Linked DNA regions of Homo sapiens. The protein of the gene in region 6 interacts with the protein of the main gene of each other region in a biochemical or structural test. Each region holds a gene or a part of one and is shown on either strand. Other genes may lie near its edges.

Region 1 (4,299 bases), on a different chromosome or scaffold from region 6:
CTGCAATATTTTTTAAAACTTGGGTTCCTATACTGAGGTCCTAACCAAATCAAACAGTAATTGCCCTACTCTCACCTCTGAAATATCCTCCGGCTGAGTATCTGCTGGTTCTGGTTGATCCACTTCCATTTTGGCCTCCATCTTCACTTCCTGGGAAGGCTGCTTCTCAGCAATGGCCTGAGAATTCACTTCTGTGCTACTAGTAGATGGAGGATTTGATACCTGTCCTTCAATGCTTACAGCTGGCTGGGAAAGCTGGGCAGAAAAAAAAGGGAAGTAGGTGAGACACACGCAGAGTCTGCCAACGATACAATCAGAATGTAAGGTAAGCAACAGGATAGCAGAATTAGCCACCTATTTCTTGGCTTATATTTATTCATGGTGCTTTCATTTGCTCTGCCCATTTCACCTCCCTTAATTATGCTTAAGAACAGGAGAATTAAGACTTGTAAATACTGGTTGGCTGATTGTACATCAAAGAACCAGCAACTATTTCATTGATAACTATCATTATCTGGCAGTGTGTGGGGATTTCAAAGATGTCTGCTTCAGAGGAGCTCACATTTATACAGAAATGAGTGAAAGAAAATAAGAAAGACTGGCTTGTTTTTACCTTCTCACCAGAGAAAGTTTCAAAGGTACAGAAAAGGAGACAATAAATATAATGATGTCCCAGAGAGTGGCTGTTTTGAATCGCTAGATTCTAATGAGATAAACTGGCATTCCCTATCTTTATCCTAAGGCTTGTCATAAGAAATCTCTTAATGAGAAGTCAGTATTTTCTGGAAGTATCCTTGATTTTATAAAGAATAAAATCAAGCAGATCCACTGGTTCCTCTCTCATTCTGTCCTTCCTTGTCTATCAGAGGCCACGATGAACCAGCCATCCGTCAAGTACAGTACTTTATAAAACGGCTGTGACTCATGGAACTTCTCAGTTCATCAACATGGCTGAGAACTATTGGATACCGATATATATTAATATCGGTATCAAAGTAGAAGCTTCTAAACCCTTAAAAAAAGTTCTATTAATAAGGATTCAACTATTAGATGAGAATTTGGATTTTTATTATATACATAACCAACCTCTCACAAGGAAGCTACAGGTTGTTCTGGGTCTATAATTCTCTCATCTTATTTTTAAACTTTGGTTTGGGCCACAAGGACTCATAAATCTGCAATTTTTTTTTTTTTTTTTAGACGGAGTTTCACTCTGTCGCCTAGGCTAGAGTGCAGTGGCGCAATCTCGGATCACTGCAACCTCCACCTCCCAGGTTCAAGCCATTCTCCTGCCTCAGTCTCCCGAGTAGCTGGGATTACAGGCACCCGCTACCATGTCTGGCTAATTTTTGTTATTTTTTTGTAGAGACAGGGTTTCACCATGTTGGCCAGGCTGGTCTTGAACTCCTGACCTCAAGTGATCTGCCTGCCACAGCCTCCCAAAGTGCTAGGATGAAAAGTGTACACCACCGCGCCCGTCCAAATCTGCAATTTTTAAATTCAATCTCTAGGTTTTATGGCTCAAACTGTTTGAAAAAGATTCCTTAAATATATGTAAAATTTATGTGCTGCACTAAATAATATACTAAATAAGGAGAAGGATTGTGTCCCCTTGTCGTACCCCTTTACGTACCTTCAGACCTCAGGGTACAACATGAAACATAATGGTCAAAGTCAGAGCTAAATAAAATCTTTATGCTCCTGCTACGATAGGTACTATCACAGGAAGGCAAAACAGGATACAAAAGTCCCTAATGAAAAATAGATTACATTCTACTTGTGGAGAAAACAGTAAGAGATAAAGCAAAAGAGAATGGAAATGGCCCAGAAGTAATATAATACTACAGTATAGCTCTAATGATTCTGCCTAAATCCAAATCTCTACTTACTGGAGTTGCAGGCTGCGGAGGAAGCAGCGGTGCTGTTGGGGTAGGAACAGACGCTGCTGTGCTCTGCTGTGAGCGAGGCTGCTGCTGGGGCTGGTCAGCAGAAGGTGCAGCAGGAAGTGAAGGCTGCACTTGTTGGGGAAGTTGTGTTGTTGGTGGTGTAGGTGTCTGCCTTGGAGGGGGATGTAGAGCCTGGGACTGTGGCCCAGGTGGCATGGCAGGAGGTGTAGGAACAGGGGCTGGAATTGTTGTTGCTGGTGGCTGCTGAGCCCCTATGCTTGGGGGAGTATGGTGAGGGGTGGGGGTACGACTAGGTACAGGCGAGGGTGAATTCTGATGAAGAGCTGGTTGAGGAAGCTGGGGACAGTGAATGTGGCTCCCCTGAGACCCTGGAGGCATTATAGGAGAGTTCACCGGGCAGGAAGAACTAGACATTTGTGCCTGTTAAAATAAAAAACATAACAAGACAGCAATTCAGAACAGAATTAAGGAAATACTTACATAGGCATGATATATAAATTTAGGACACAAACTGATTAAACAAAGAGTAGCAATGTGTCTATTTCAAAATGTGTAAAATACCCTATTACTGGGCATGTATCTTTGGACAGCACCATCAAGATAGTACTTAACTAAAGAGACTTCAAACCATTCAGCAGAATGGCCTCAGCCACCGCAGAAAAATGGCAGAATTGAGTGCAGAGTGCTCTAGGGCCTGCCTATGCTCTTTTCAGCCAGATTTCCTTCTACATTGTGTTTAATTCTAAGATTTATTTTAAAGTGTTCACTAGTAAAAACAATTAAAACTATCCATTTAAATTATTTCCTACTTTGTAACAATTAACACCATTGCTATGTCACAGAATAATCTCTTCATGTTCAGAATACCCTAAGTCCAAAATTGTTATTTTTTAAAAAATCATCTGTTTTCACCCACTATTTGCTGCCACTCTCTCCTATAAAAACCTACATCAAGAGAAGTTTCAAGAATCAAAAATAAGTGAAAAATCCACTTATGAGACATACTTGAGACACTGGAGCTTGACCGCTGGACGGAGCCAAAGGGATATTTGTTACATTCATTCCCTGTGATGGGAACTGAGTCTGAGGAAGGAACTGGCCCTGGTTGGAAGGCTGTTGCATACGAGGCCCATAGCCCATAGGCTGAAAAAAAAAAAAAACACAAATCACCAAACTGCTTCATTATAGTTATTCTACTATAACTAAAATCATCAAATGCTCCTAACGTCAGGCTTATTAAGTAGAGAAAAGCCAAAGACAGGAGTATAGGTGAAGAGGGCTGAAGAGGAGAAGGAAGAAAGTTGTAGAACAACTGACTCTTGTGCCAAGATAAAGAGAAATAGCCTCACAGTTTACCTAGGCCTACTCCAAGAAATAGTAAGAGGATGGAACACACATTCTCTTGGTACACAAATATGCCTAGCACAAGGATAGCAGGTAATTTTCTTTGCATGCTCTGTTAAGTGAGGAGAGTTAATCACAATTTCATGAGGTCATGTCAGTGATGTAATAACACAAATTCTAAGACCCATAATATGTAAAAACAAGAAAATCTTACAAGTTGTAGCAGAATCTGGTAGCATTCATGGTCCACAAATGCTCTAGCACTGTTACATGTCATTTCCAAAATTACCCTACACAAATTCAGGCCTTAAAGAAAGAAATCTCGAGTACCAAAGGCCAAAAACTTCATAAGCTAAGACCATCTGTCTTATAGGTTAAAATGAAGGACAGAACTCCCTGTTGAAAATGGCAGATTAGTGAGAAGTAGTAATGCTCAGGAACCCCCAAAAGGGTCAAGAATCAGAGGCACCAGCTAACTCTAAAGGGCAGCAGGAGGGTTAGGGTCAAGGTAGAGAGATGGACTGGTTAAGAGTTCGCATAAGGAGCAGGAGAAGCCTAGTCTCTCTTCTCCGAGTTCAAGAACCAGGCAAAAACGCACCATCAACCTTGCAAGACAGTTCTCTGCCTGGAGGAGGGAAGACAGACATCAGGGAAGAGAAGTGACCGTGAAAACGCATGCAGGCCACTAAACACTGACACTCCAGGGACAAGGGACTGGCTGTTTTCGTTTTTTGGTCAGCTTTCTAGTAGAGTTAAATACAGAAGAATTACAGAAGAACTAGGAGTTATGGTCTGTTTAAATGACTGTGAGAATTTATAAAGTAGGAACAAACAGGATTTTCAAAATACCAGGTAAAGGCCAAAGAGATTACCAAAGACGTCAAACTAACCGGGTTGAGAGCTCCAGGTTGAGCCAACTGTCCATGGTGCTGAAGAGGAGGGGTTTGCCGGGGTACAATAGGGGGCTGGGCCATGCTCATCTGGCCAAATTGATTCAAACCTGTGAATATGAGCAAAATGTTAGATCTGAATGCCTTTGTGAAATTGA
Region 2 (4,299 bases), on a different chromosome or scaffold from region 6:
GAAGCTTGTCTTCTGAAACTGGTAACCTGGATGGCTTTGTAGCTTTGCTGTTGTTGAATGAATTTGTTGTAGATTTTGTCTTAAAAAGGGGGACAATTAGTAACACAAGACTTAACAAAAAGGCATGTCCTTATATGTACATCCAGCTGTTTCCAAGATGGAGCCCAAAGGTTAGCTTTTTCCATAGTAGTGTCCATTATTGGATGATCAGATGCTTAATAAGTTGATCAGAAAGGATTTTCCACACTTAACCACCTTTTCCCCCTTCCTTTACAATTTTGATCCTTGTAAGGCACAGGGGCTCTTTCGTGGGACCAAAAGTCAGCTTTAAATGGCTCCGATTTAATCCAAAGTAGAAAGTCAACATCATACTTAAGTTGGGTCATGTGTTACACATTCATCACCATCACACTATTGTGAAAGGGTCTGTTAGTATGGGGGACCAAGGAAGGGCTCATTATCAAGCACATTAAACAAGGGGCTGCTGGGCGCCATGGCTCATGCCTGTAATCCCAGCACTTTGGGAGGCGGAGGCTGGTGGATCAACTTCAGGTCAGGAGTTCAAGACCAGCCTGGCCAACATGGGGAAACCCCATCTGTACTCAAAATACAAAAACATAGCCAGGCATGGTGACATGCACCTGTAATTCCAGCTACTTGAGAGGCTGAGGCATGACAATTGCTTGAACTCGGGAGGCAGAGGTTGCAGTGAGCCAAGATCGCGCCACTGCACTCCAGCCTGGGTAATGGAGTGAGACGCTGTCTCCAAAAGAAACGAGGGACACTTTGTCTGTTGTAACTGCTCCACTAAGAAATTGAGTAATGAGATGGACAGAGATCTTAGGGATGTATTTTAAACAAATAAATGGCTTGAGTTTTTACATTAAATACATTCAAAAACTGAAGGCATTTGGTTAGGTGGGACAGACCTGAGAATAACATTCTTGAGGAACTCAATCTTATTTTAGTGACGGGATGTGTCTCTGAGGCTCCCAGGGGAAAATTGGGCCTAGTGGAGCAGGGTGTGTGCCCGGTGCATGTGATCAAATTTGAGGGAGGGGACCTCTGTCTAGGAGCTGAGGGGTTGAAAGGAGGAGGAGCCCTTGGCAGCCTGAGAAACAGGATCTACTTGGACTGCAGTGCATGTCTGTAGAGACTGGCCTGTGGGGCCACCAGTGTCACTTAGATGTGTCTGTGAAGGGTGGCAGTGAGCTGAGAGAAAAATGCACCCGACATTGGGGAGCTGCTCAGCCAGGGTGCTGCTCATCTGGGGGCATGGATGTTGCAAACAGCACTCCCGAAGGTCATGCAGCACCTCAGAGTGATGAATGTCACTGCCACTGATGACAAACAAGTTGCCGAAGCCTGGGAAGCTTATGCAGAGATGATGCAGAAATACGGAATGTGCTGCGAATGAGGGTAGCAAGAGAGAAACGGTACCTTTCACCCCACTGAAGCAGCAGCCCTGGAGAGGCACAGAATTTGATGGCCTCAGATGTTAAAGTAGCATTTTCTTGTATTATGTAGAAGCCTTTACACTTTCTCATACATGAGGTCTTCCTTTACTTGGCACCCTTACAATAAGTGGGGACTTTATATTACCGGTATATAGTTAGTTGGGTGTTTTGGAAACTTCTTTATTTAATATGTCCAAGTTAAAATAGCATATTGTGTCTTTCAACATCAGAGATTCATGATTTAACAGTATAAGACAAATATCCAGGCAAGCAGTAGACTTTTGTTTTTTGTTTTCTGGGTTGTTTTTTTTTTTTTTTTTTTTTTTTTTTGGTCAGCTTTATTGCAAAATTTGCACACAACAGACTGTTTATAAAGTTTTTTGAAATTGCAGGCCAGGGTGGTGGCTCATGCCTATAATCCCAGTGCTTAGGGAGACTGAGACAGGAGGATTGCTTGAGGCCAGCAGTTGGAGACCAGCCTGGACAACATAGTGAGACCCCATCTAAACAAAAAATTTTTTTAATTAGTTGGGTGTAATAGTACAATCCTGTAATCCCAGCTATTCAGGAGGCTGTGGCAGGAGGATCGCTTGAGCCCAGGAGGTCGAGGCTGCAGTGAGCTGTGATCATGCCACTGCACTCTGGCCTGGGTGACAGAGTGAGACCCTGTCTCTGGGGGAAAAAGGAAAAGAAAAACTACATTCTGAAGATTGAACATAGCTGTGTTTCATCCTGTGCTGTATAAGTGGCTCTAAGCAGTTGTGATTACATTTTATGACGTGAATCCTTTTAAATGCAATAGGGAAGCTTATTTAAAGAAAGCTGGTGGCGAATATGGTTGTCAACCAAATGGTCTGTTATGTATGTCTGGTACTTTATGTATCAGAGTGCTTTTCTCCACGTCACCTCAGTTTGATCCTTACAGCGTCCTGTGAGGAAGGGAAGATGCTGTTACTGCTATTTTCTAGGTGAGGAACTGGACTTGAGAGGTGATACAGGGTCAAAACCAGATCCAAACTAGATTGTTAAAGTCCGTAGCTCTATATATTTATTTTCTAAGTCTCTATCTGTAAACAATGCATTTACTTGAATCGACCCAGGAACCTGCCAAGCTTAGTGAGTTTCAGTAGCGGCCTTCCCGCACATGAATGAGATCACTAAGGGGGAGGTTTGTAACCACCTGTGGTGGGGGCAGCCAGGAGTGTATTCTTCCTCCTGGGTTAGGGCGTCCCCCTTTTCCCTCTGGTTCTGGTGTTATCCTCAGCGTGACGTGTGTGGGCTCGTGTTCCTGTTTACCTCAGGGAGAATGAGAAACGGTTATGTTACCCCATCAGTGAGTTCTGGCTAAGTAGGAATAAAAGTTGTCATAGAGACTTTTAGGACTAGGACATTTCATGACCGTGCTTCGTTTTTGAATAACTGAGAGGGGTGAGAGCGGTGGCCCCATTCAAAGGTCGTCAGGGATGAAGGTAGGCAAGGACAAGTCATGTGCAGGGCGCCTTAGAGGGCCTTCAGAAGATGGAAAGTCGCTCCTGGCTGAACATTCAGATTTGATTCTGTAAACAGAATTGAACATAACTTACAAAGAGACTGAGTCCTGCAGTTGGAAGTTGATGCTTAGATTAGTCGCCTGTGTTTTCACAGCTTCTAAGTAGTGTGTTGTAATTGTGTGGCAAAGTATGTGATTACCTGGGGGGTCCATAATTGCTGACTTGTGTTTTTACTTGATGTATTTGAAAACAGTTAGGAAAATGATTTTGCCAAAGTGTGTCTTACCTTAGTTAAGATGAAATGTACCTTATTGTGAGTTTCTGAAGATTGCAAAAGCTTGTCAGTTTAGTTTTTGGGGTCCCATTAGTGAGGGCACCCCTCTTTACCTTACTCAAACCAGCTCTTCACATGTATTCCAAGAAACTAGAGGGCATGCTAAGAGGTATTTCTCAACAAATGGTTTGTGCTCAGATGCTGTTGCTTGTAGCTGAGGAATTTGACTGCAGACTTTCCCAGAGCCTTGGTGTCCTGATTGGGCACTGTGAGAGAGGGGCTACAGTTGGACCACTCTCAATCCTGTTTGACGCTAGAACTCTTTTTAGCCTATTATGGGTCCGCAGACTTCCTCTGCAAAGGGCCAGAGAGCACGCATTTGGCTTTCTGAGCCATATGGTCTCTTGTTGCAACTACTCAAGGCTGCCATTTCAGCAAGAAAGTAGCCATAGGCGAGTGGGCCTGGCTGTGTTCCAGTAAAACTCTAGTTGTAAAGACTGGCATCTGAGGACTTCGCCCATGGGCTGCAATTTGGTGACTGATATAACGTGGGACTTCATTCTCTGAGCACCCGTTGGGGAGCACTGGCCTACCACGGCTGCACAGACAGCTTTAAGGAAAACAGCAGCAGGGCAAGTTTTCTGAGCTGCATGATGTGGAGCCCGGGAGAGCCCAGGTGAGCAGCAGGCTAGCTTGGGTCTCCTGTCTTGGAGCACTTCAGAGCTTAGCAGGGCCCTCTCTCTCTGTCTTTTTTGTTCCTCTGTAACAGTTATATGGATGACTTGATTTAAAATCAGACGAATTTATCAGAAAGCCTGGTGACCGGTTGCATTTTTCTTTGTTCTTTTGCTTTTTGTTGACCCCAGTGGCCCACATGGCATTTCTCGTCCGTCTTTGTCATCTCAGGCTCTAGGCTTGCTCCCCTTCCTGTGACACCAGAAGGTGAGCGTCAGTAAGAACTCCAGAGCCTTTCCACGGCCCTCTTCCCAGCACTTCCCTCCCCAGGGGCAGTGCCTGACACATAGTAGGCCCTCAGGAAATATTTGAGGGAATTAGTGAAAGAATTATATAGTATTTG
Region 3 (4,299 bases), on a different chromosome or scaffold from region 6:
ACAAAAATTAGCCAGGTGCGGTGGGTGGTGCATGCCTGTAGTCCCAGCTACTCAGGAGGCTGAGGCAGGAGAATCGCTTGAACCCGGGAGGCAGAGGTTGCAGTGAGCCAAGATCACTCCACTGCACTCCAGCCTGGGCGACAGAACAAGACTGTATCTCAAAAAATAACATGATATAATATAACATAACATAACATATCATAACATAAAAATAAAGGCTGGGTGTGGTGGCTCACACCTGTACTCCCGGCACTTTGGGAGGCCGAGGTGGGTGGATCACTTGAGGCTGCGAGTTCAAGACCAGCCTGGCCAACATGGTGAAACCATGTGTCTACTAAAAATACAAAAATTAGCTGGGTGTGGTGGCGCGCACCTGTAATCCTAGCTATTCGGGAGTCTTGAGGCACAAGAATCGCTGCAGGTTGCAGTGAGCCGAAATCACACCACTGCACTCTAGCCTGGGTGACAGAGCGAGACTCTGTCTCATAAATAAATTAATTAAATAAAATAAAGATAGCAGAGAAGGGCTGGTGTGGTGGCTCGCACCAGTAATCAAAGAGCTTTCAGAGGCCAATGCAGAAGGATCGCCTTCCCGCCAAAAATTTGAGACCAGCCTGGGCAACACAGCAAGATCCCATCACTACAGAAATTTAAAAGTCACCCATATGCGCGTGGTAGCACATGCTAGTAGTCCCAGCCTCTTGGGAACCTGAGGTGGGAAGATGGCTAGAGCCGGGAGATCAAGGCTGCAGTGCGCTGTGATCAAACCACTGCACTCCAGCCTGGGCAACAGAACAAGATCCTGTCTGTAAAAACAAAAATAAAACACACAATTGCAAGGACACCAAAATTATATTCTCACACAACTTCAGAAGGTATCTCACCTACAAAATATAAAAAATTCCATAAATTCTATTTATGGCATAAGAGCTGCATCAGGAGAAAGCATGGAGAAGACTCGGTACGGCGAGAGGATAGGGAACTGCAACATAGTAAAATATTGTTAGGTCTTCACAATGACTGCTGCAATATTTAATGCAAATGTTAAATGCCTCTTCAAAAAGCAGCTTCCTACAGTTAAAAAATAGTAATATTCTATAACTAAAATTTGTTTTTTGCTTTTTTTTTTTAAATTCTACACGCTAGCAGCAGCAAAGGAAAAAAGCTGGATGCTACACCTAAAAGTATACAGCAACTGAGGATGCCCAAATAACAGTAAGCTGATGTACTTACAGGGAGTTTGGTGAAGGCCGGGTTGGTGACATGCTTCCCAAAGGCATCTTCCTGGAACTGAAGAAGCTGCACCACCAGCCCAGCCAGTGTTTTATTGGTAGGAGCATCCGCATGAACATACTGCAAGATAAAGACAGGCATTCAAAAACTAGTACAATTTTTGCAGGAGAAAATGTTGGCTTACTTCCTAGTACCTACTAAGTACTTACGTTATGGGAAATTTATAGATGTCTGAGACACGCTCTGTGCTATAAAGGAGCTTACAAAAACAAATATGTGTGTGCATTTAAAAATGGTTAAGACGGTTAATTTTTTTTTTCTTTTCTTTGAGACGGAGCTTCGGTCTTGTCACCCAGGCTGGAGTGCAGCGGTGCAATCTCGGCTCACTGCAACCTCTGCCTCCCGGGTTCAAGTCATTCTCCTGCCTCAGTCTCCAGAGTAGCTGGGATTACAGGTATGAGCCACTACCCCCAACTACTTTTGTATTTTTAGTAGAGACGGGGTTTCACCACATTGGATAGGCTAGCCTCAAACTCCTGACCTCATGTGACCTGCCCCTGCCTCGACCTCACAAAGATAAATCTCCTGTGTTTTTTACCAAAAAAAAAAAAAAAAAGTGAAATATTATCCATATTAATGTAAAGAATGTCAAAAGCCCAAACCAGTAGTAGACACATCAGCTAGGAAGCTTCACAGCAAGGAAAAATAATGGGTAACACAACAAGAAAAGAATAAATTAGTGAGTTAAATGTAAAAGTTTTATTTGGCAATTACATGTTCAATATCACTTTGAGTAGCCAATACTCTCAAAAAATTTTTTTTCTTTTTTTTTGAGACAGAGTCTTGTTTTTCACCCAGGTTGGAGTGCAATGGCATCATCTCAGCTCACTGCAACCTCCGCCTCCAGAGTTCAAGCGATTCTCCTCCCTCAGCCTCCCTAGCAGCTGGGACTACAGGCGCGCAACCACCATGCCCGGCTAATTTTGTTTGTATTTTTAGTAGAGACGGGGTTTCACTATGTTGGCCAGGCTGGTCTTTAACTTCTGACCTCATGATCCGCCCACTTCGGCCACCCAAAGCGCTAGGATTACAGGCGTGAGCCACCACACTCAGCCTCAAAAAGTATTTTTAAACCTCCAATTCCAAGCAAGAAAAACATCTATACCTGCCTTTCAGTTGGACGAGAGAATTTTTATTTTTTTATTTTTTTTTGCCGGAGCTAACTTTCGAACTACCATCCAACATTTCAAGGTTAATGTGGTATGTCTCTATTACAATAAATATTTTTTAGATGAGTGGTGTATGGTCAAAATTACATCAACTGCAAAGTCTACAATTATTATGCATAGGACAAAGGGCACACAATTTCTGCTACTACCATTGAAACTTACTTACAGCATATAAAAAGGCAATCATTTACTTTTTTTTTTTTTTTTTTGAGATGGGGTCTTCTTCCATCACTTAGCCTGAAATGACGAAACCCCGTCTCCACTAAAAAACAAATACAAAAAATTAGCTGGGTGTGGTGGCGCACACCTGTCCCCATGCACTCCAGCCTGGGTGACAGAGCCAGACTCCGTCTCAAATAATTAATTTTAAAAACTTTTTTTGTGTGTGTGTTTTTGGAGTCTCGCTCTGTCACCCAGGCTGGAGCACAGTGGCGCAATCTCTGCTCAGTGCAAGCTCTGCCTTCTGGGTTCACATCGTTCTCCTGCCTCAGCCTCCCAATAAACTGGGACTACAGGCACCCACCACCATTCCCGGCTAATTTTTTGTATTTTTAGTAGAGACGGGGTTTCACCATGTTAGCCAGGATGGTCTCGATCTCCTGACCTCGTGATCCACCCGCCTCAGCCTCCCAAAGTGCTGGGATTACAGTACTGTGCCCAGCCAATTTTAAAAACTTTAAAAACTACATACTACTTTCCCCTTCCTTATACTATATTGATAATTTGCAACAAAAACTAGCAAGCCTAGTTTTTGAAGGACCATATACTTTTTTTTTTCAAGACAGTGGTTTCTTGCTGTCTCCCAGGATGGAATACAGTGGTGTAATGACAGCCACCGCAGCCTCAATCTCCTGGGCTCAAGTGATCCTCCTCCTCCACCTCCCAGAGAGCTAGGACTACAGAGGCGTGCCAACACATCTGGCTGATTTTTAATTTTCTGTACACAACCGTTTTCACCAACTTCTCTGGGCTAGTCTAGAACTCCTGGGTTCAAGTGATTCTCTCACTTTGGCCTCCCAAAAAGTACTGGGATTAGAGGCATAAGGTACTGCACCTGGCCCATATACTTTCAAGTGAAAATTTGAAGTCAGTTTTTCTCCAATATACTCAACATAGTACTTTTTTTTTTTTTTTTGAGACAGTCTCACTCTGTTGCCCAGGCTGGAGTGCAGTGGTGCGATCTTGGCTCACTGCAAGCTCTGCCCCCCAGGTTCACAACATTCTCCTGTCTCAGCCTCCCGAGTAGCTGGGACTACAGGCGCCCACCACCACGCCTGGCTAATTTTTTGTATTTTTAGTAGAGACGGGGTTTCACCATGTTAGTCAGGATGGTCTCGATCTCCTGACCTCGTGATTCGCCTGCCTCGGCCTCCCAAAGTGCTGGGATTACAGGTGTGAGCCACCGCGCCCAGCCCCGTAAATTTTTAATAAACGGTATTCAAGGGCCAGGCGCGGTGGTGGCTCACACCTGGAATCCCAGCACTTTGGGAGGCCGAGGCGGGCGAATCACGAGGTCAGGAGATCAAGACCAACCTGACTAAAGCAGTGAAACCCCGTCTCTACTAAAAATACAAAAACTAGCCGTGCATGGTGGCACTTGCCTGTAGTCCCAGCTACTCAGGCGGCTGAGGGAGGAGAATCGCTTGAACCCAGGAGGCGCAGGCTGTAGCGAACCCAGATCGCGATCGTGCCACCGCACTCCAGCCTGGGTGCACTCCAGCCTGGGTGACAGAGCGAGACTCACTCTCAAAAAATATAAAATAAAATAAACTTTGAAATAGACCTGCTATGTACCCACAAAAATTAAAAATTAAAACTCTGGCCGGATGCAGTGACT
Region 4 (4,299 bases), on a different chromosome or scaffold from region 6:
AAAACTGGGTTTCCAAGTGGATGGGAAGGGTTAATCAGTGTATAGTATCAGGAAGGCGTAAGCGGACAGGATCTGAGAACATGGATTTGGGGGTTCGAAATGTTTTTCAGATTTCTCTCACTTGAAATTTAGTCTTGCATGTTTGAATTTGGTGAGGAGAATACGTTAGTGAAAAGTTAGTTAACTTTAAACTTAGTTAAAACGTTAACGTAGGAAGGCGTTTTCACCTTTCCTGTGATTTTTAAGGTTACAAAAATAATTTAATTTCACAAATATTTCTTGTTATTTTGTTTATAGTTAAATATAATAAGTTTAATGAACTTTATTTTTGGGGGGAAGATTTACATGAGATAATGGTATTACCAAAAGTAGCCGCGAATTGAGATTGGGCTAGATACATTTTCATATAGTTTGTAGGACTTGCAATACAGATTTTGGGACTAGTCATAAACTTTATGGTTTTATGTCATCGTTTTTTTGTCTTATGGTTTTTTTTTTTTACCCTTCTCTGCTATCTCATTTCTCTTCAACTAAAATCTTAGAAAATACTGTAAATTGAAATTCTCAAGGCTTAATATGCTTAATACAGGGCACACATTTTATGATTCTTTTACCTTAAAATTTTTTACCAATTCCATTTCTGAGTGTCACATGACAACTAATCCTTGACGACTAAAGGGATATAATTTTGTTAGAGTTTTTATAAGATGATCTTCATCAAAAGATGCAGCCATGCAGGAACTTTCAAATCTTTGATGATGGAGAAGGCCCTTTGAAACTGGAGCTGGTTTTATATTTTGATTATGACTAATAGGCAACCTTTTTTTGTGTGTGCTTGTGGTTTAGTGGAAGAAGAGGGAAAAGGGAGAGATCAGGAGCTAATTGTGACCCATTTCCAAGTGTCCAAGTTTAGGAGTTGATTCTTGTCATGATTAGTCATTTTGGAAGCACGCATGTGCATTTAAACCACACTACTTTCATTCTGAGTAATGTAAGAGGATTTTTAACTTCCAAAAATGTCTAGAATTCAGGTTAACGTCTCCTAGTCATGTGTGCATAAAGGGCACGGTATGCAGGGCCTTACTTCTTTTCAGGCTATTTGGGCCATTGCATTATGAGACCTTGTAACCAAAATTATCACCCTAACATCATAAAATGAAAGAATTAGAAAAGAGGACTTAGAGATCAGAATCTAAATCAGTGGTTCTCAGCCCTGGTTGCATGTTTGAATTACCTGGGAACTTCTGAAAAATACAAATACCCAGAGAATTTGATATAATTTGGCTTGTGTGTGGCTTAGCATTGATGGTTTTGTGTTTTGTTTTTTTTTTTCAAGTTTCTTAGGTGATTCTAATGTATAGTTAGGATGAAGTTTTCTGATCTAGTTCAACCCTCTTATTTTACTGGTGAAAAACCTGATTTTTGGAAAAGCTAATGACTTTCTTAAGATCACACAGCTAGTTAGTAGAGAGGTAATTAGTAGCCACAGTTCTAGAGGTTTTTGTTTTCCATTTTCTTCTTTAAATTGATCTTTTTTAAAAGGTCATTTGCTAGGTAATGGATAGTCTCACATAAGTAGCGCTTGCTTTCCTGAAAGGCTTATTTGCCTCTCAATCTAAAAACATCTTGCTTATTATTTCAGCATCAAAAGGATGGGCAAATGTAGATGGAGGCTGAGTGAGTGTATCATGTTTGCATAGCTGTCCAGTGCCTGTCAGTAGGGGTACTTAGGAACTATGAAGTGATAAAAGAGGTAAGAAGGATAGCATTTTAACAAAAAGAGGAAGCCCTTGGTTACTTACATTTGTCAGATACTGTGTCAGGGAGAAGGATGATGACTATCTCACAGGTTCCCTTACCTCGGGCATTAAAGTAGAAATGAACAATCAGATGTGGTTAAGAGGGGAAAAGGTTACATTTCCTTTAATTCAGATTAAGCTTGCACTGCACCCATGATTGAACAAGTGAGTTCTCTCAGTTCCTCTTGTCTTGGGGAGACCTCTAAGGACGCCAGGGCTTACCTGGTAAGGCCTATCTATCACTTATTTCGTTATACACAGCACACATCTGCTTTTCCCATGGGTCAGGGTGTAATCAAATTAGGCAGACTTGAGTTTCTGTAGTGGTTCCCATAATTTCACAAGTGTGGGGGATACTGTGTTAAGATTTCTGCTGCTGCTGCTGCTGCAGAAGATAATTCTTCAAGAGTCCGAGTCTTCTTTCATGTAAGAATGTGTATTGTTATGGCTTCTTGCCAAGATAAAAAGATGAGGGCTGTCCTGTCACATAATGCTTATTTGTGTCCTCACTGTTTCTGTTCTTTAGATTAATACATCCAGTTCCTTTTCAACACACTGTATTAGGAAAATGTTATTTTAACTGCAACTCTGTTTTAAATTTTTTTTTAATTTGAAAATGACTAAGTCATAATCATTCCACATTGGCTCATAATTTTGACCTCAGTCACCTTTTGGAGTAACTCACCAAAAGGCCAGTTATGGTCGTGTGTGAAGAATCTGTCTGCTTGGCCCGTGTTGCCAAAATGTCGTTTTGTAATTTCCTTTGGCAATAGTGTCTTCGTCAGTGATTCTCAACTAATATACTTCCTCTTTCTACAGCCCCAGTACACTAGAGGGACTGTTTTTCCTCTTTTTCAAAGCTGTGTCATTGACCTCTGAAGTGAAGAAATTGGCCCTTTTAGACTTTGATCTGTGAGTCCCATGTAACAGAGACTCTTTAAAAAAGAAGCTAAGTGTGTGTTTTGATATGTTTATCTCCTTCTTAGAAAATGAAATGAAACTACAGCAGACTTATTTTTAGGAGATTTTAGGAGTGTTCTATTTTAAGAAAATGACACCATACAAGAACATCTTTTAGTTAAACTTCTTAGTACTCTGCTTGTGATTCTTACTTAAAACCTGCAAGATACTTTTATTTGGAAAATTAATGAAGAGGCCTTGTCTCACTAATAAGTCATTTAATTTGGTCTGGCAAAAGTTTACCATCCATTCAAAGATCTTCATGAAAATGCAAAGATAAGGCTGTTTAGGCTTGAGCCCAGGAGTTCAAGACCAGCTTGGGCACATAGCAAAACCCCATCTTATTTTTTTTTTAAAGACTGTTTAGGCCTGTGCATTCTGGCAGGTTGCCCCACTTACCCAGAGCAGGTGCATCAGATTCCAGATTCCCAGGGCTGGAGAGAATATGGAATTTATTTTGTTTGTATACCCACTTATTTTGCCTATAGGGACAGACTTGACCCTATTCTCAACTCCTCATTTCTCTCCTTTTCCTGCATCACAAATTGAGGGGTCCTGAAGAGCCACTTTACCTTTTTGGTGCTATAAAAGGAGCTGGGGATCATAAATGCAAAGACGAGTTGATATCAGTGGATGTTACAGCTGGTATACAGTAAGTGAATGAAAGATTGGAAAGAGAAAACCCTTTTTACCCATTTGCATCACATCCCATTTCATGTATTCAACAAATGTTTATCAAAGGCATGCTGCTTGCAGAGCATTTGCCAGGACTTAGGGATATAGTGGTAGCAGAAGGCAGATAAAGTTCCAGTTCACTCACAGGAGTTCATATTCTGATGGAGGAGACAGAAAATAAGCTATAGCATATCTGTGCTTTGTGAATTTGTCATTGCTGCCTATTCCCGTTGCCTTTTTTTTACATCTGTATTTCTGCTTTCTCTAGTACTTCAACTCTGCTAAGAAGTTGCTGGGAAGTGGCAAATTTGATGTGGGGCATGGCTTGGAGCTAGCCTTTAACTCTCTGCAGATCATTTTGAGCTTGCTTTGGAGATGCAAAACCACCGTACCATGGCTCCTGTGGATTGGGTCTGTTTGGGAGAAGCTTTGGTTTTCCAAGCTCCACCTGGATTAGATAGAGCACATCTTTGGCCCTGGACTGATCTGGGATCCCCAGTTCTGTCTCCCAGGGCCTGATGTAGATCTGGCCTTCCTCTGGAGTGGATGTGGAGCCTTGATGCCACTGACTCATCTGTATTACTTGTTGCCTAAAACTCAGAACTAAAAGAGATCTTAAAGATCATCTAACTACCTTATTTTGCAGGTGAGAAACATGCTAGGACTATGTGAGTGACTGGGTTCAGGGTTCCACAGCTAGTAGGGGTGGAGTAACGGGTGTGTCCAGTCAGTGCAGTGGTTCATGCCTATAATTTTAACACTTTGGGAGGCCAAGGCAGGAGGATTGCCTGAGGCCAGGAGTTTGAGACCAGCCTGGGCAACAAAGTGAGACCTCGTCTCTACCAGAAAAAAAGAAAACTAGGCC
Region 5 (4,299 bases), on a different chromosome or scaffold from region 6:
ATAAAGTTGGAAGAATTTTACATTGGACAGTTGTATATCAACTACTCACAATTGCTTTTTTTCTAGATTTACTTTATCACATACCTATCTGTCTATCCATCAGTCTGTCTTAGTTTCTTCATGCATTTCAGAGTAAGTTATAGATAACATTAAACATCCCACTAAATACTTCAATAGGTTATACCAAGTTATATGTCTTTTGAATCAGTATTTGCATTATGATCTTTTATGATGAATGTTATATATATATATATATATATATATATATATATATATATATATTTTTTTTTTTTTTTTTTTTTTTTTTTGAGACAGAGTGTCACTCTGTTGCCAAGCTGGAGTGCAGTGGCGTGATCTTGGCTCACTGCAACCTCTGCTTTCCAAGTTCAAGCAATTCTCTGCCTCAGCCTCCTGTGTAGCTGGGACTACAGGCGCGCACCACCACACTCAGCTAATTTTTGTATATTTAGTAGAGACGGGGTTTCACCGTGTTCACCAGGATGGTCTCAGTCTTTTGACCTCGTTATCCGCCTGCCTCAGCGTCCCAAAGTGCTGGGATTACAGGCATGAGCCACCGCACCTGGCCAAATGGTGTATATTTTTTAAATGGCAGTCGAAAGGCAAAGCGTTATGGTTAGGTTCCTAGAAAAAAACAGAAGCCCAAGGATTAAACCCCGGACTGTAGCCGTGTTGTTTCCTGTGCTGCTGAATAGCCTCACACAATGTGTGTTCACATGAATTCCAGGGCATCTTCCTTAGTACCAAGTTCATTTTTTATTCTTTTCTTATTACATATTAACAGCACAAACAGTGTGATTCTTTATAAATCATAAGATTGCACAGTTACTTGAGTTGGTTCATTGAGCCTCTATATTTATTAAGAGATTTTTCTTTAACTCGGGCTGGGTATAAACAATGGCCTCCTCATAGCTACTTAAACATTTCACACTTAGTGCCGGACACAGGGGTGTGCAACTGTAATCCCAGCACTTTGGGAAGCTGAGGCAGGTGGATCACTTGAGGTCAGGAGTTTGAGACCAGCCTGGCCAACATGGTGATACTCTGTCTCTACAAAAAATACAAAAATTAGCCAGGCGTGGTGGTGCGCGCCTGTAGTCCCAGCTACTTGGGAGGCTGAGGTAGGAGGATCACTTGAGTCAAGGAGGTCGAGGCTGCAGTGAGCCACAGTCGCCCCACTGCACTCCAACCTAAGGGACAGAGCGAGACCCTGTCTCAAAAAAAAAAAAATTAAATTAAAAAATAAAAATAAAACATTTAACACGAAGTCACATAGGCATATGAGGAATGTGCTAAGTGCTCCTGGATATCCAGAGAAGTTAGGTTTTATCTGAAAACTTCTGTATTCATTCCTTTAACTGGATGATAAAATCTGTACCTCCACTGCTTCCACATAAACATAGATTCTAAACTTTTAAGTAGGCACCAATTGATTAATTGATTGATGCATTTTTACTCTTGCCCTTACCTGTCATCCATCTCTTTTTGTAATACACACACATACACACATACATTTTTGTTTATATATGTGTGTAAGTAAAGGATGTCCATCTGACCTCTCATCTTTTACCCAATTATTCAGACCCTCTACATACTGTTTTTTGCAATTTCAGGTGTGTTATAGATACAAATTTTAAATATGTAATTTTTCCCATCTAGGATAGTGAATATTACAATTCCCTAAGATGGATTCTTGAAAATGACCCAACAGAATTGGACCTCAGGTTTATCATAGATGAAGAACTTTTTGGACAGGTTTGTGAATTTTGATCAGTTAAAATGGCACATAAATTGTGAGACAAATGTTTAGATGTTAATACGTACACTTAATACATTCCTAGGCTCTGTTTTTACATTCATTTCCCAGTAACAAAAGCTGTCTCTGAGCAAGAATTTGTACTTTCTTTAACATTTGACTCGTTCCATATTTATTTTAGTAAAACTAGTATTTTAAGTTTTCTTAGTTTTTAACTTTTGACTGGACTTAATTTAAAACACCAAGTTTCTCGTATAACTACAATATGTATACTTTTTAAATTTTTCTCGCTAAAATAACATATCAAGTTATTGTGTTTAATTTTAGACACATCAACATGAGCTGAAAAATGGTGGATCAGAAATAGTTGTCACCAATAAGAACAAAAAGGAATATATTTAGTAAGTATTTTATTAGTATGTATTTTATTGGATATAATTTTGTACTTTATTCCAGAAAGACTCTTCTTACCATCTTTCTCTGTCCCCTTGTCCAGAATCTCAGTGTTCTTTTTCTCTATCACAATGCAGTAGCAAGCACTCATATTCAGCTTTTACCTTGGTCTCAGCTAGCCTTTAGTTTTTGTTTCTAACTAGAATAATTGTGCCTCAGAATTTTGTCTTGGTTCACATGAAAATGAAATGTTGTTTCTTTTTAGTCTTGTAATACAATGGCGATTTGTAAACCGAATCCAGAAGCAAATGGCTGCTTTTAAAGAGGTATTCATTTTCTTTTATTTGCTCTTCCATAATGTCACAGTATAACCTATAAGTTTCAAATATTAGGCCTCATCACATCTGAGAAAAATAAGTATATGGCTTGTTTTGTGAAATCATTCTAAATTATATTTTTATATTAACTAAATATTCCATTCAGTCATTCAAGAAGTCTAGACAATAAACATGGACAGGTCCCCTTTCCCCCAAGCCTTTTCCCTATTCCATTCTCTTCACTTTAGGACAGCAAAAGAACAAGAGTGCTTTAGGGATAGTATAACATATTGTTTGTTTTTCTAAATAGGATCACCTTACACATTTTGTTTTGTGACTTACTTTCTTCTTTTTTTTTTTTTTTTGAGCGCGGAGTGAGTCACTTTGTCGCCCAGGCTGGAATGCAGTGGCGTGATCTCGGCTCACTGCAACCTGCACCTCCCAGGTTCAAGCAATTCTCCTGCCTCAGCCTCCTGAGTAGCTGGGATTACAGGTGCCCGCCACCACGCCTGGCTAATTTTTGTATTTTTAGTAGAGACATGGTTTCACCATGTTGGTCGGGCTGGTCTCAAACTCCAGACCTCAAGTGATCCATCCACCTTGGCCTCCCAAAGTGCTGGGGTTACCAGTGTGAGCCACCGTGCTCGGCCTACTTTCTTCTTTTATCAGATATTTATTAGGGATATTTACATGTGACGACATATAGCTGCCTTTCTTTGTGGCTATATTTTATTCAGAATATAAATTAAAAAGTTACTTAAATTTTTCCAATTGGTAGACAGATTGTCAGAGCACTCATTTCTTAAGCTAACTTACAATCTTCTGTTAAATATGTATCTGGCTGGGCATGGTGGCTGACGCCTAAAATCCCAACACTTGAGGAGGCTGAGGCGGGAGGATTGCTTGAGCCCAGGAGTTCGAGACCAACGTGGACAACATAGGGAGACCTTATCTCTATAAAAAATTAAAAATTTGGGCGCGGTGGCTCATTCCTGTGATCCCAGCACTTTGGGAGTCCGAGGTGGGCAGATTGCCTGAGGTCAGGAGTTTGAGACTAGTCTGGCTAATGTGGTGAAACCCTGTCTCTACTAAAAATACAAAAAAATTAGCCGGACGTGGTGGCGTGCACGTGCAGTCCCAGCTACTCGGGAGGCTGAGGCAGGGGAATTGCTTGAACCTGAGAGGCAGAGGTTGCAGTGAGCCAAGATTACGCCACTGCACTCCATCCTGGGCAACAGAGCGAGACTCCGTCTCAAAAAAAAAATTAGCCTGGTGTCATGGCATGTGCATATGGTCACAGCTACTTGGGAGGCTGAGGCTGGAGGATCACTTGAGCCTGGGAAGTCGAGGCTACAGTCAGCTATGAGCTATGATGGCACTACTGCACTCCAGTCTGGGCTACAGAGTGAAACTTTGTCTCTAAAGTGTGTGTGTGTGTGTGTGTGTGTGTGTGTGTGTGTGTGTGTCACATACTTTTTCATAAATTCAGTATTGAGTACTATGTGTATGGTGCTGTACCAGGCCAAAAGACATAGGTCCTGTTATTAAGGTATGTATGATGTAAAGAGTGAAATGAACAGAGGCAAGCATAAAGTGCTAGGTGAGCACAGAAGAGAAGTACAAACCAGGGAGGGGCAAAGGAAGGGACAAAGAAGGACTAGAGGGATTGGCCAACCATGGAGAAGAGGGAAATGCAGTTCTAAGCAACAGGAGCAGCGTGTGTGAAGTCTGGCAATAAGGTAGGCTGTACCCACAGGCAGTTGAGTATGCTGGGTGAGAGAATGCAAGAGGGAAACAATCAGCCTGCGGAGCTAA
Region 6 (4,299 bases):
GTCTCCACAAGACCAGCCCTCTCTCTGCCCAAGCCAGGGCTGCTGGGGGGATGCTGGTGGAGGGTGGGGACACCCCACCCAGCAGGGCCTGAGTGTGGGAAGAGGCTGTTGTCAGGTCTGGGGTGGACCAGGAAGGGGACAGCCACAGCCCACTCATAGCTGCCTGACACCTCTGGAGGACGGCCAACACCCAGTTGCAGGGAGGATGATCCAGGGCCCAGAATCTGCCCCTGTGCCCAAGAGCACTCATCAGGAGACCCCACCCACTCCGCAAGCCCTCCATGCCCCTGCCAGTGGGCTGCCGAGCAGGCGTGGTCCTGCCACCCTTGGGTGCCGGCTCCTGTCCCTGACCTGGGATCTCGCACACCCCCGAGTGTGCACATACACGCACATACGTGCCACGCAGCTCCACCCCGCCTCCCACGTCCCCTCCCCCAGCCACAGGGCCCCTGCAGGTGCAGCGGGCAGGCAGGGGCGCTCAGTGAGAGCAGAGCAGGCTCAGGGGGCTGCATGCAGCCCACCCCACCCGTCCCCCATCCTGGGCCACCCCGCTGCTCACGCCCACCCGCCTGCATGCCAGTCTGGAGCTGTCGGCCCCTGATGGAGTGCCTCCCATCCTGCCAGCTGCCACTCCCCGGGACGCTAACTGAGCGGGAAGACTGATGAGCGCCCAGGCCCGGCACCCCTGAAACCCATCTTATCCACCAACTGCTGCCAGCCCCCACCGTGCCCAGCATGGCCCCGTGCTGCCCCCGAGCACGCAGCTCCCGTGCCCAACCCCAGCCTTGCCCCTGACCCTGCTGCCACAAGCCCAGCCCCAGGTTCTGTGAGCTGCATCTGGGGGGTTCTGGGAGCTGGATCTGGGGGTGCGGGAGGGGCAGGCCCAGGGGCGGCGCTTACCAGGCGTGGGGGGTGGGAGAGGACAGGTGCCCAGCCCCGAGCATTCCTGGGGAGTCCTGGGATGGGCAGAGGCCCAAATGGGCCCTGGGCTTTCAGTGCCTTCCCCTCGCCTGGCCCCACAGACCCAGGGAACAGACGGCGATCAGGGCCTACCCCAGGAGACGGGTGTGAGTGAAGGGGCCTCACGTGGCCTTTGTCTTCGGCATCCCAGCCCAGCACACAGACCCCTCCAGGGGAGGAGCAGGATCCCCAGGGACCCGGGGTAAGGGGTCCAGAGACACACAGTTCTCTTTCTTCATCTCTCGCCTAGAGGGTCAGCTAGAGGATCACTTGGGGGGGTGCCAGCTGCAGCCAGGGCCGTGGCGCGCATCTTAACGAGTTCAGCCCAGACAGGATGCTGGGTGGGCGGCCAGCCCCGACAGCAGATGCGGCAGGGCCCCACTACTCCCTGATCCAGGACTGGGGTGACACAGGACGGGGCAGGTGGAGGAGACAGCCACCCGGGGCCCAGCATCACTGTCCTCATGGCCACAGGACGCCTGCAGGCCTGCACCTGCCTACTCCGGGTCCCTCAGGAGGGTGGGAGCACAGACACATCAGCCAGGGCTGCCCTCCCAGACCCCTCACACAAAGAGACCAACCCACATGGAGTCTTCTCCTTCACTATCCTGAGGGTCCCCAGGGGAACTGGAACCTGTCATCCAGGACTTAACTTGAGTTCCCCACCCTGTTGTGGTCCTCAGATGCCCCCCACTCGAGGCAGGAGTACAGTCCACTTGAAGAGTGGCCTCTCAATCCCTGACACCCCAGGAAAAGTGCCCTGCATTGCTGGGGGAACTGGAACCAGGCAGTAGGGACCTCGTCCTCCACACCGACCATGGGAAGCACCCGCCACAGAGGGGCCTTCCATCTCCCCACCATCAGCCAGCTGGCATCCCCCCACCCCACCCCAGTCACCCCCCCAACACCACCCCACCCACCTGCCTGCACAGCTGAGGGCACCAAACACAGAGTGGGCACAGACCCCCAGGTTGCCACGCCAGGCCCTCACTCCAGACGGGTACAGGCAGGCAACAAATGGGGAGGCCAGGGCACGCCCCACCCCACACACAGCCAGAGTCATCTCCTGCCAGCAGCCACTCCCAAGGGCAATGGAGACCGCCCAGCATTCAGGCCCAGGGGGCCTCTTCAGTCCCTAACTCTCACACCCCCATGCTGGGCTCAAGAACCCCCAAGTCCCCACCCGCTGCACATGTTTCAGACCCGGGACCTGGAGCAGGCAGGGTCCCAGTGCAACCCCGGCCTGGGCCTCAGGGTCTGGCAGGGAAGACGGCTAGGTGCCCCTTCAGAAATGTCAGCAAGTCCGGATGGGGGACCCCACACCACTGCCAGAAGACCTGAGTGGGGGGCCGAGTGGAGGACGGCACTGGGGACTGGTCCCACCTTCCTGCCCCATGGCTGGTCCCCTGGGCAAGGGGGAAGCAGCAGCTCCGGTCCCACCCTCCTGCCCCATGGCCGGTTCCCTCGGCAGCGGGGAAGCAGCAGTTCCAGTCTCACCCTCCTGCTGGCCCCCTGGGCAGTGGGAGGCAGCAGCTCCGGTCCCACCCTTCAGGGTTCTCTCAAGGCCAGCCCTGGGCCAGGTGGGAGCCACCCTGACCCTTAACCCTGTGACACTGCACCTATCCAAGACCAGGTCCTGTGAAGCCACAAGGGCAGGGGCTCCTGTGCCTGATGAAACCCGTAACCCTCCCCACCAGCCAGCACATCCATGGCCCAGGGCTCCAGGCATGGGAGGTGGCTGCCCTCGGTGGGGGGTAGGCAGTTGGCCAGACTCCTGTCCCTGCCCGGGGGGACAGCGGAGACCAGGCTCCCTCGACTCCTCCTGCACCTCCTGGGCCCCACACAACCCCAGCCCTGGTCCCTCTGGCATCCCGATGTCCCGGGTGGCCCTCCGGCAGGAGTGACCTTCCATCCCCAACCCCGCTCATCCCCAGGAAGGGGCTGGAGCACCCCCAGGGAAAGAGGGTTCCTTCCCAGAAGTCCTCCTGGACCAAATACCGGGGTTCTGAGAGGAAGCTGCTCCTGCCTGGCCTCCCCCAACCCACCCCACCACCACCACGGGGACCACATGGACAGTCACAGGCAGCCCACCCTCTCCACGCCTCACACACGTGTCCCAGGCCACACTGTGGGTCAGGCCCCCCAAAGCGGCACCCACTTAGACATGGGGGCCAGGACCCACGCGCCATGGGCAGGACTGGGTGGGCCCCTGAGGGCCAGCTGGTGGCCCTCCACGTCCCGGGACTGACCACCTCCTGAGCCACCAGGTGTGTCAGCCCCCCTAGGCCACCACGTCCTCAGCTCCCTGAACATTCTCTCAAAGTCCCCAGTTCTCAGGAAACTGCTGGATAAACACTTCGCAGAGACGGTGGTGGCAGCGGCTGGCAGGGTGCCAGGCGGCACCGAGCTGCTTCTCCACAGCAAAGTGAGCCCAGCAGGCCCTGGGAGCGGGCGCCAGCTGACAGCGGCCACCGTGGTCCCCACTGCCGACACATCCATCGCCCCGACAGCTGCCGGGGGCCCATTTACCTTCTCCAGCACATTGAGCAGACGGCTCCGCTGACGGCAGCCCATGAGGGGCCCGCAACCCACCCTCCCCGCCTGCCAGGAGACCGCACAGCTCACCGCGAAGGGCCCGGCCTGCCAGGCCTCTGCCCGGGCCCGGGAGTACACACCCCTTTACCAGCAGCCCTCGAACCCTGTAAACAACCAGGCTGGGGTGGGGGCAGGGGAGGGGCCACACAACGGAGGCCAGCTGACCCCACTTGGCTGGAGCCCCCAGGTCTGTGGGTGAAATACATCCACTGCTCCTCCCGGCACAAGCCCTTCTGAGGGGGCACAAGTGGCCAGTCTGCACAAGGAGAGGTGTCTGTTCCCGCCAGGCAGAGGACTGGCGCTCCACCTGCCTGGGCCTCGCCCAGCCCAGGACCCATTCTGCTCTCCCAGAAAGCCCACCAGGCAGGCAGGGCGGGCAGGGCTCATCATGCCCATCAGCTCCCTGGGAAAACGGAGACTTAGGGGAGGTGACCCTCAGAGGCAGATCATGACCAGAGAGACCCCAGGTCCTGCCGCCAAGGCAGGGGTTGTAACTTGACACAAACTGCAAATTCTTCACCTCCTTCCGCTCCACCATGGAGCAGGCCTCAGCCCGACACACACACCCCGGGAGGAACATGGTGCGGGCAGGCGGCACCACCATGACCCCGTCCACCTCGCTGAGGCACAGCCGGAGGCGCTGGGGCCTCTCTTCCTGCCACTCCAGGGAAGCACCTGGGTCTCAGCTTTCCATTCTCCTGGGGCTCTACTGGGTGGGGTACTGGGCCTCCCTGGTGCTGCCCC
Region 7 (4,299 bases), on a different chromosome or scaffold from region 6:
GTATCTAAAAACACAAATCTAATTATATTACCTCTCCATACCCCAATTTACTGAACTAAAATATCTATTTGACCAGCCCTCTAACATTTTTCTTTTCCTTTTTTTTTTTTTGAGACAGTCTCGCTCTGTTGTCCAGGCTGGCGTGTAGTGGCGCAATCTCAGCTCACTGCAACCTCCGCCTCCCAGGTTCAAGCAATTCTCCTGCCTCAGGCTCCAGAGTAGCTGGGATTACAGGCACCCGCCACCACCCCCGGCTAGTTTTTTGTACTTTTAGTAGAGATGGGGCTTCACCATGTTCTCCAGGCTGGTCTCGAACTCCTGACCTCAGGTGATCTGCCTACCTCAGCGTCCCAAAGTGCTGGGATTACAGGCATAAGCCATCACGCCCAGCCTATTTTTTCAAACAATCTGACTGAGGCATTCATTCTCCTCCTTTTGTTTTGATTCTGTACCATCCCCTTACTCAGAACGCAGACGCCTATGATTTTTAAGTCCAAAACCTGAACATATGCATTCCTAAATGTGGAATTTTGTTTTAACATTCAGATAGAGAAAATAACTGGGGGAAAAAAAACTTTCAAGAGGACTGTCTTACCCATTTCAACATGCCCCAACATAAAATTGAAATTACCTTAAGAGCTACAAGCAGTGTAACTGTTTCAACTGAATAATATCCTCTGTCAACATAATCTCCCATAAACAAGTAATTTGTATCTGGTGATTTGCCACCAATTCTAAACAGTTCCATGAGATCATGAAATTGCCCATGCACATCTCCACAGACAGTAACTGGACATCGAACCTCTTGCACGTTGGATTCTTTTGTCAGGATTTCTTTAGCCTACAGATGGGAGACAAAAATAAGGCAATACATTTGGCATTAAACAATATTAACAAAGATTTGTTTACTTACACTTAATGTAGCTTAAGGGGCAGACTCAGTCTAAGATAAAATTGCAGGCATTTATGAACCCATTAAAATAAGTGAGATATGATTATAATCCATTAGCTATCTCACCCTGTTACCTAGGGAAAAAATATGCATTCCTATCATCAATACCAGGAGTTTTTTAAAAACCTATCAAATAGCCATCTAATTAAATACTAATTGTTAGCTGTCACATAAAACCAATGAAAATCGAACAGGACATTCAGGTATCTACTTCCTTACCTTCAGAGTTCTAACTACAATGCAGCACTCAAAGATTCTTTTTTTTTCTTTTTTTGAGACAGGGTCTCATTTTGTCACCCAGGCTGGAGTGCAGTAGTATGATCATAGCTCACTGTAGCCTGGATCTTCTTGGCTCAGGAATCTTCCCACCTCAGTAGTGGGGACCACAGGCACACGCCACCATGGCTGGCTAATTTTCACAAACTTTTTTGTAGAGACGGGGTCTCACGTGATCCTCCACCCTCATCCTCCCAAGGGCTGGGATTACATGCATAAGCCACCTCACCTCAGCCCTGTTTGACTTTTTAAAAACATGTTTTTGGCCAAGCACTGTGGCTCATACCTGTGAGAAAATCATTTGCTCAACCATCTGTACCAGCCCCATGCTAGCAACTGGACATATAGTGGTGAACAAGATGGCTCATTCCCACTACCGTAGAGGGGAGAAGGACCACAAACAAGTAACCAAGCCAAAAGTACACTGTGTTAAGTGTCACAAAGGAAAGGGAGAGGGAAACTGGGAGAGACCACTTTACATAAGATACCAAAACAAATTACCAGAGAATTGTTGCTAATGAGCCATGACAACCACAGATGACAAGGACTGGGTTCAAAGCATTGGTATGCAATCTTAGCTGCACATTAAAAATCCCAATGCCCAGCCAGGCGCGGTGGCTCGCACCTGTAATCCCAGCACTTTGGGAGGCCAAGGCGGGCCGATCACTTGAGGTCAGGAGTTTGAGGCCAGCCTGGCCATCATGGCGAAACCCCATCTCCACTAAAAATAAAAAAAACTAGCTAGGCATGGTGGTGCATGACTGTAGTACCAGCTACTTGGGAGGCTGAGGCAGGAGAATTGCTTAAACTTGGGAGGTGGAGGTTGCCGTGAGCCAAGATCGCATCACTGCACTCCAGCCTGGGTGACAGACCAAGACTCTGTCTCAAAACAAAAACAAAAACACCAATGCCCATTCCTTCCCCTAATAAAGTCAGAATTTTGGAGACTGGAATCAAGCCATCAATAATTTTTAAGCACCCCCACCCCTCCTTTTCCCAGTGTGCAACCAAGTTTAAGAACCACTGCACTTTGGGACGCTAAGGCGGGTGGATGGCTTGACCCCAGGAGTTCCAGACCAGCCTGGAGTACAGTGGCATGATCTCGGCTCACTATAACCTCCACCTCCCAGGTTCAAACGATCCTCCTGCCTCAGTCTCCATGAACAATTGCGACCACAGGTGTGCACCACTATGCCTATTTTGCACTTTTTGTAGAGGTGAGGTTTCACCATGTTGTCCAGGCTGGCCTCAAACTCCTGAGCTTAAATGATTTGCCCACCTCTGCCTCCCAAAGTGCTGAATTACAGGCGTTAGCCACTATACTGGCCTGAGATACCTATTAAGAAATATGTACAACCCATTATTATCAAATCCTACTTCATTCTGAAATTTTTCTCTGCAGGGTAATTCCAACTTCCCATTTACTATCACTAAAAAACACAAATTCACTAGGCTTATTCCATTACCAAGTCTGTCTGGCATTAATACCACATCTAGTGTTTTTTTAACACCTATCATATATTAATGAAAATAACTAAATGAAATAAGTCCTACACTGAGAAGAAACTTGCAAAAGTTATTCAGAAGTTTTAAAAGGGCATGACATAAGCAAACAGATGGTTATATACCATGTAAATCTTGCCATGATGTAATTTTCACATTTAAAGCTATCAGAAGTTAAATGTTAATATACTTCTGTGAATATCTGTTTATCTGCAAAGCTATTCTCTGTATTAATAATAAAAAGTTGACTTTCAGGACTGCCTGAAGTTCCTTACTACAACTGACTCAAATTTTCTATTCAAATCATGAAGGAAAATTAAGTCTAAATGCTATTTGTTGCTTTTATTTCAATTTAGGCAAATCACACCGATAAACAGTGTTATCTATTTTTTAAACTATACAAATTAGTAATACATTCTTGTAAAAAATTTCGGCACAGATAAAATGAAATGTTCCCTTTGAGCACCCTACACAATCCCACCCCCTTTGGGCAAAGTTACCAATAAAATTTTGATGTACAGATGCTCCTCAATTTGTAACACAGCTGCATCCAGATAATCCTATCGTAAATATAATCGAGTCAACAGTGTGTTTTCAGCTTACAATGTTTTCAAGTTATGATATATTTATCTGGATGTAGTCCCATCATAAACTGAGGGGTATATTGAATAGCTATCATTTTCACACCATCATTAAGTCGAAAAATTGGGGAGTGTCTGTATATCCTTTAAAACTTTGTTTACAAAGTTTACACACATACTGTATGTCTACAGAAACAATAGTTTTCCTTTGCATTTTTAAACTAGAAACAATATTGTTCAGCAGCCTGCTTTTCTAACAATATATAATAATACATAACATTTATTGAGACAGCTGGTTATTTTCTCATAGTGGAGGCAGAGTATTCCCCTGACCAATTACAATGGCAGAGGGGTGTGAAACTACAGCAATATATATCCTCGTATTTTCTCCTCTGTATACATATGCAGGCACATTTCCTGAGAGAAGATACTATGAAGTGAACTTAACTAGTGTATCTAGTAGTTTGGTTTTTAAATGTTGACATTATCAAATTGTCCTTTAAAATAAAAAGAACAGTTAACTCTTAAGTGAAATTTCTAACTTGTCAATCTAGAAAAGCCAACCAGAGCTCTTTCTTCCCTTCCTACCAAACTTCACAGACCAGAACAAATATAATTAAATACTGGCGATAACAGTGGTATACAGTAGAAGCAACCATCCCTCAGACCGGAGGGGGAAAAAAAAAAAATCATCCAATCAACTATTAAGTAGATCTTAACAAAAATGCAACCTTGGAAAGAACCAGTTTTAAGCATGATTTTGGTTGTTTTGTTGTTGTTGTTTTGGTCTCAACTTACCAGCTCTCAGATAGTTACAACAATAAAACAGACTACACCAGAACAGTAGAACAATAAAAGCTACAGATGTTCATATAAAAGATCATTTTGGGCTGGGTGCAGTGGCTCACGCCTGTAATCCCAAATCCCAATACTTTGCGAGGCTGAGGCGAGTGGATCACTTGAGGTCAGGAGCTCCAGACCAGCCTG

The links.
Region 1: of the proteins of AKT1 (region 6) and EP300, one has a biochemical effect on the other in vitro, tested with the Homo sapiens proteins (3 studies listed by BioGRID, with this or other methods).
Region 2: of the proteins of AKT1 (region 6) and CREBBP, one has a biochemical effect on the other in vitro, tested with the Homo sapiens proteins (2 studies listed by BioGRID, with this or other methods).
Region 3: of the proteins of AKT1 (region 6) and SMARCC1, one has a biochemical effect on the other in vitro, tested with the Homo sapiens proteins (2 studies listed by BioGRID, with this or other methods).
Region 4: of the proteins of AKT1 (region 6) and FOXO3, one has a biochemical effect on the other in vitro, tested with the Homo sapiens proteins (2 studies listed by BioGRID and IntAct).
Region 5: of the proteins of AKT1 (region 6) and NEDD4, one has a biochemical effect on the other in vitro, tested with the Homo sapiens proteins (3 studies listed by BioGRID, with this or other methods).
Region 7: of the proteins of AKT1 (region 6) and PPP2CA, one has a biochemical effect on the other in vitro, tested with the Homo sapiens proteins (6 studies listed by BioGRID and IntAct, with this or other methods).

Annotation. Positions count from the first base shown.
Region 1 is NC_000022.11:41,147,789-41,152,087, reverse strand, and holds part of EP300 (histone acetyltransferase p300), read right to left. Parts: intron 4,252-4,299; coding exon 4,142-4,251; intron 3,051-4,141; coding exon 2,913-3,050; intron 2,328-2,912; coding exon 1,890-2,327; intron 256-1,889; coding exon 76-255; intron 1-75. UniProt on the Homo sapiens protein: Functions as a histone acetyltransferase and regulates transcription via chromatin remodeling. Acetylates all four core histones in nucleosomes. Histone acetylation gives an epigenetic tag for transcriptional activation.
Region 2 is NC_000016.10:3,873,888-3,878,186, reverse strand, and holds part of CREBBP (CREB-binding protein), read left to right. Parts: intron 1-4,299. UniProt on the Homo sapiens protein: Acetylates histones, giving a specific tag for transcriptional activation. Mediates acetylation of histone H3 at 'Lys-18' and 'Lys-27' (H3K18ac and H3K27ac, respectively).
Region 3 is NC_000003.12:47,771,584-47,775,882, forward strand, and holds part of SMARCC1 (SWI/SNF complex subunit SMARCC1), read right to left. Parts: intron 1,354-4,299; coding exon 1,234-1,353; intron 1-1,233. UniProt on the Homo sapiens protein: Involved in transcriptional activation and repression of select genes by chromatin remodeling (alteration of DNA-nucleosome topology).
Region 4 is NC_000006.12:108,563,470-108,567,768, forward strand, and holds part of FOXO3 (forkhead box protein O3), read left to right. Parts: intron 1-3,702; exon of another isoform or gene 3,703-4,080; intron 4,081-4,299. UniProt on the Homo sapiens protein: Transcriptional activator that recognizes and binds to the DNA sequence 5'-[AG]TAAA[TC]A-3' and regulates different processes, such as apoptosis and autophagy.
Region 5 is NC_000015.10:55,835,983-55,840,281, reverse strand, and holds part of NEDD4 (E3 ubiquitin-protein ligase NEDD4), read left to right. Parts: intron 1-1,677; coding exon 1,678-1,773; intron 1,774-2,101; coding exon 2,102-2,175; intron 2,176-2,432; coding exon 2,433-2,493; intron 2,494-4,299. UniProt on the Homo sapiens protein: E3 ubiquitin-protein ligase which accepts ubiquitin from an E2 ubiquitin-conjugating enzyme in the form of a thioester and then directly transfers the ubiquitin to targeted substrates. Specifically ubiquitinates 'Lys-63' in target proteins.
Region 6 is NC_000014.9:104,781,657-104,785,955, forward strand, and holds part of AKT1 (RAC-alpha serine/threonine-protein kinase), read right to left. Parts: intron 1-4,299. UniProt on the Homo sapiens protein: AKT1 is one of 3 closely related serine/threonine-protein kinases (AKT1, AKT2 and AKT3) called the AKT kinase, and which regulate many processes including metabolism, proliferation, cell survival, growth and angiogenesis.
Region 7 is NC_000005.10:134,205,291-134,209,589, forward strand, and holds part of PPP2CA (serine/threonine-protein phosphatase 2A catalytic subunit alpha isoform), read right to left. Parts: intron 842-4,299; coding exon 632-841; intron 1-631. UniProt on the Homo sapiens protein: Catalytic subunit of protein phosphatase 2A (PP2A), a serine/threonine phosphatase involved in the regulation of a wide variety of enzymes, signal transduction pathways, and cellular events.